Linked DNA regions of Homo sapiens. The protein of the gene in region 1 interacts with the protein of each later gene in a biochemical or structural test. Each region holds a gene or a part of one and is shown on either strand. Other genes may lie near its edges.

What was found.
Region 2: of the proteins of PTPN12 (region 1) and INSR, one has a biochemical effect on the other in vitro, tested with the Homo sapiens proteins (one large-scale study listed by IntAct).

What each region holds. Positions count from the first base shown.
Region 1 is NC_000007.14:77,627,795-77,631,294, reverse strand, and holds part of PTPN12 (tyrosine-protein phosphatase non-receptor type 12), read right to left. Parts: intron 1-3,500. UniProt on the Homo sapiens protein: Dephosphorylates a range of proteins, and thereby regulates cellular signaling cascades. Dephosphorylates cellular tyrosine kinases, such as ERBB2 and PTK2B/PYK2, and thereby regulates signaling via ERBB2 and PTK2B/PYK2.
Region 2 is NC_000019.10:7,114,090-7,116,414, forward strand, and holds part of INSR (insulin receptor isoform Long preproprotein), read right to left. Parts: 3' UTR 1-2,325. UniProt on the Homo sapiens protein: Receptor tyrosine kinase which mediates the pleiotropic actions of insulin.

The DNA of each region.
Region 1 (3,500 bases):
GCAAGAAAATACAGCTTCTGGGTCCTCCTGAAAGAGGAGTTCCAGTCCAATACTTGATACATCTACCAAGAGTACCAGAACTCTCTCTTGCCACTAAAGAACTATCTACCTTATCCAGTAGTGGTAGTCTGAGTCATCACCATATGTCTCCTTGCCCTCTTGCTACTAACAGCGCACAGTGAAGAGATGGCTGTTGGAAGGAAGGGACACATAATCTTGGCATTCTGGTACCATTTCTTAAATTAAATGAACAAAACAAAAAGGGCAGTTCAGCCCTTTTTCTATCAGTTATCTTCCAGAAACTCTGTGCTTTTTCTCTCATGGCAGTTCTCACCCTTAAAAACTTTTATTTTCTAAGCGTGGCCCTTGCTTTGCAAATGCATGTTTCTCCCTGGAACTTTGGGCTGCCTTTCCTGTTAAAAACTTTTGTTTTAGAGGTTATCCAACCAGATATTGCGTATTTTATATAGGCTTTTGCAAATCATACACTGTATGGGGCCTTCTGTAGTTGAATCTGAGAAATCTTTCAGGAGGCCTAAGTCAAGACTGAAATTAGAATTGATAGCTAAGAATTTTTGTCAGGCAGTAACTTATGCAAAAGTTTTTTTTAGGTATCAATACAAAAGTATTCCATTATAGTCATGCACTACATAATGATGTTTTCATCAACAAGACCGCATAAACAACAGCGGTCCTGTAAGATTATGATACCATATTTTTACTGTACCTTTTCTATGTTTAGATACACAAATACTTACCATTGTGTTACAATTGTTGAGTATGGTAATATGCTATACAAGTTTGTAGCCTAGGAGCAAGAGGTTACATTGTATGGCCCAGATGTGTAGTATATACTATACCATCTAGGTTTGTGTAAATACATTCTATGACATTCACACAATGGCAAAACTGCCTAATGACATATTTTTCTTAGAACATATCCCTGCCATTAAGAAATGTGTGACTGTAATTCACTAACAAGTTCTAGGACCAAAAAACCCCCCAAAACTCTAATTCTGGTGCCAATGGCTCTATAAGATAATGATCTACAAAGGAAATAATAATCTATAAGGTAAATAAACAATCTATAAAGTAAATAATCCATATGGTAAATATTTGGCAACACATTAAAAATGAGACTACTTGTAGTTATGCTGCAACAAAGAACATTTACACACAGGAAAATCTTCGGTTAAAATCAAACCAATAACATAGTTAAGGTTGAGTAAAAAGAAACCAGAAATCACATGTATAGTGATTTTTGCTTTGAAATACAAAACCAAACAAACAGAAATGAGCTGGCACATAGTAGGGTGCTTTTAGCTATATCTTACTCTTTTTTTTTTTTTTTTTTTGAGACAGGGTCTCCCTCTGTTGCCCAGGCAGAGTGCCGGGACGCAATTATGGCTCACTGCAGCCTTGAGCTCCTAGGCTCAAGTGATCTTCCTACCTCAGCCTCCAGAGTAGCTGGGACCACAAGTGTGCACCACCATGCCCGGCTAGTTTTTTATCTTTTGTAGAGATTGGGTGTCACTATGTCACCCAGACTGGTTATGAACTCCTGGGCTCAAGTGAACTTCCTGCCTCAGCCTCCCAAAATGCTGGGATTACAGGCATGAGCCACCAACAGACTCGTCATGTAGTAGTAACTTTTAATAAGCATATCACATCATACATCTTTCTGGCCCTCACCAAATCCTATTTCCAGTAATGGTTTTTTGGTTTTTTTTAAAAAAAAAAGCAAAAGAACAAAACAACAACAAAAAAACAATAAAACTTCCTAGGTACAATACCACATGCTTGATATACTAAAAACTCAAAATGAAAATTTCTTATCTACATATTTTCTTATATAGTTACAGCTGGGCAGTTATATTTCAAATTCTGAAGCTGAGGAACAAAAGACATTAGCAATTTAAAATTATGGTAAACTGGTAAAGTAATATTATACTATTCATTATCTTCTAAAGATCCTTCAAATAAAACAAAGATAAATCAAGAAAAGATAATTCTGTAATTTAAGCAAATAGTTTAAGACTGTCACCTGGCTGGGCGTGGTGGCTCACGCCTGTAATCCCAGCCCTTTGGGAGGCCGAGGTGGGCGGATCACGAGGTCAGGAGATCCAGACCATCCTGGCTAACACAGTGAAACCCTGTCTCTACTAAAAATACAAAAAATTAGCCAGGCATGGTGGCGCATGCCTGTATTCCCAACTACTAGGGAGGATGAGGCAGGAGAATTCCTTGAACCCAGGAGGCGGAGGTTGCAGTGAGCCAAGATTGCGCCACTGCACTTCAGCCTGGGCAACAAGAGCAAAACTCTGTCTCAAAAAGACTGTCATCTAGTCTACCAAATACACTCTCTCAAGTTAAAAAATACAGTATGTGTGAGAGAAAATACAAGCACTACAGTATGGGTGGTATATAATGGGTCAGAAATAGAAAATAATCTTTCAAGGCCAGGTGTGGTAGCTCACGTCTGTAATCCCAGCACTTTGGGAGGCCTAGGTGGGCAGATCACTTGAGGCCAGGAATTTGAGACCAGCCTGGCAAACATATCGAAACCCTGTCTCTACTAAAAACATAAAAATTAGCTGGGTGTGGTAGTGGGTGCCTGTAATCCCAGCTACTTGGGAGGCTGAGCCGAGATCTTGCCACTGCACTCTAGCCTGGGTGACAGTGCAAGACTCAAAAAAAAAATCTTTTGAGTGCAAGTCTCAAAAAAAAAAAAAAATCTTTCAAGGTCACAGTACTTATTTTGCCTGCACGTTATAAATACCAGTCTGTATGTGTCACTACCAAAGTTCACTGATAGGTAAGTGACCACTGATAATCAATATATCAATAAACAGCTTTCAAATTTATATGTTTACTCTCAACCTTAGGGTCTGTTTAAGATGGTAGCCATCATTACTTTCAGCAGATCAAAGAGGAGTTTCAAGAAGCAATAATACACTTTGGGAACTGAGTGCATGCATTATCTTGAAATGCTAAGAGTGCTAAAAAAATAATAATTCTTTAAATAATAGCTTTGATGAGTAGGTATGCATATAGCCCACTCACTACTGAATTGAGCAGTTTGCAGTATTGTTCCTGGGTTAAACTCAGGGTTGGAAGCAGCCATATTTGGAAGCATTTGTGAAGACAGTAAAAACAAACAAACAAAAAAATGTAATCTGTAGTTAAAGGAACAGTAAAAAATGACTAAACATTTAGGAAAAACGAGTAACATTATATGGCCAATCAAGACATTCTACAGTATTTTTGCCACTGTTATTTTAAGTGATTCTTCCCTAAATTATTTCTAATTATTCAGTCAGATAAATTTTTGACCGATACAAAAACACTAAGATCTATAATACAGAAGAAAAAGAAAATAAGTTATCCAGTTATAACTACTAAAATAATTTAGAAACACAAAACCCAGTAATATAATGTGACCAAATTGTTAACAATACATTAAAAGCTTATATTAAAAAATTAGTATCTAAGACAGATTT
Region 2 (2,325 bases), on another chromosome or scaffold:
GGGTTTTGGATTGGAATTTCCCTCACATGCTCCCATCCCACTTGGAGAATTTAAAAAGACATTGCATTAGGTGTTTGTGTGTAAGGTGCATCACCAGCCTGAAAGGAGTGGGCATAAACCATCAGGGAGCCCAGGGCACCTTTGTGCTCACTTCAGGGGGATTCCATGGAACAGGTGGGAATGCTTGCTCTGAATCAAAGCCCGTCTTTGCCCCGGCAGCCATCTCTCACCAAAGGAAGGTACACCTTGCTGGGTTACCCCATATATCAGATACATCATGACAGCCTGGAACTTAGTTTATGTTTGGGGAACATAGTGACAATAGATGGAGGATTTTTTTTTAAAGGAAGATTAAATTCAGAGAAGAATATTACCAGCCAGGAAGAAAAGGATCTATGCTCGCATAAAGGCCATACCTTCTCCATCCCAACTCCCTCCCTCAAAATTCTTACTGGTCCCTGGCATTCGAATCAGCTGATACACACGTTCCCTGATTCAGACCGGTTCCAGGTAGAATTCTGAAATCTCAAAGATGTCCATGATTGAATCACATCTTAACAATACACTGAGGTAGACTGTGCTGAAAAAAGAAAATCACTATCCCCCATTCACCTGTTTATTTTTCTTTGATAAAAATTTACATGCGCTCCATTTTTTATGAGAGTGATTTTCAGAGTGATTTTATATATTAAAATAAATACTTTTTCCCCTAATATAAGAAAAACCTTTCTGAATTAGAAAAATGTGAAAATTGCAGCTAGTGTAGTATACAACCACTACAAATTTACTAAGAAGAGAACAAAATACCTAGTTCTACGTGTTTTTTTTTTAAATTTAGGTACAGACCCTCATATTTACAAAATAAATTTGGCAAAAATAATTTCTGTACTCTTGCTTCTTGTACCCAATCACTGAGGCTCCTCAGCAATATTTTTACATGCTGTATTTTCCCGAATCATATAAATAAGATAGCAATAGACAATTGGGATTCATGTCTACCTGTGTTCTTAATCAAGAATTGAGAGGGCTTGGAGGTTGCCATTATGACTCTATCCCATTCTTAAGCCCACAACTCTTAAGAGAAGAAGAAAAGGAAGCAGTCAAAAAGTTGTAAGAAAATGCACTCAGGAATAACGCATGGGCGATGATTTTTTGATGAACCAAAGTGATGAGTTCACTGTGTTCTTTGAGCAGCTGTGGTGGTTCTTTTTGCAAAGAGAAGAAACGGTGGATTCACGCCCATTCGGAAGTTCTTGGTGGTGTGTAAGGTCTTTTTCACGGTTTCTCCTCCAGACTCTACTCTCTTAGGGATTGCAACACTGTAAGCACCTGAGCATTCAGCTCAGGCACCACACCTGGCCCAGATGAGGTCACCGGGCTCAGAGCAGCTTCCGGGAGTTCAGTACTGAGGACCGTCAGATGCTCTCAGGGTGGAGGGGACCAAGACGTACTCTCAGTGCACCTCTCTCTTACATTGCTTAGATGTTCCCAAAGTCCATCCAGGTTGTTGTGCTTTGGGATCTGACGTTCTTGGGTTTGCACAATAACGGTTAGGATGTTCACACCCGGGAGAGGAAACGCCACAAGAGGTACACACAGAGAATCAGAGGATGAACACAGGTGTTCTTGAAGGCAGGCTCAGAGCTAGGTAGCTACCAGCTTATCCGAACAGGAACCTTCCAGCAGACCTGGTACCTGAACCAGACCATCCATAAAACCTAGTCTCTCACACACTCCACGTGGCCTCACAACATCCAAAAGTGTTAGCAGCGAACATGGCTTCATTCCCAGAAATGGATGCCTTTAAGACCAAACAAAGAGGCCACTTGTGCCTGACTCCCTCCCCTTCCCGGCCCCACAACAGGCAGACCAACTCATGTCCCCACTCCCCGCCAACCCCGGGGAATAGTCAATAACTTATGAGGCTAATACCAGAGACTTTAAAAATTAAATATGGTACAAATATATTCTCAAAACTCTGTCATCTCAGTTCTTTTTTTTTTTCCTTTTTCCATTTTGTTTTTTCTTTCTTTTTCTTTTTTTTTTTTTAATGTCCTAGCTTGGTTTGGTCTTGAAAAGATTCATAATCACTCCAAATGAAATGCTCCTCCCTTGGCCACCAATGTGAAGGGAGGGTAGAAACCTGAGGCTAGACTTCTGACACAAGAAGAATCTGTCGAGAGCACAGTCTCCCAGTCAATAAGAAGGAAGGAGAGAGGGGGATGAGCTCGCACCCTTGAGAAGAACCTTCATGAGCCAATTCCCAAAGCATCAACTCCGCATGGATACTTTGCACACACATCAGCCGTGTCTAATGGACACACA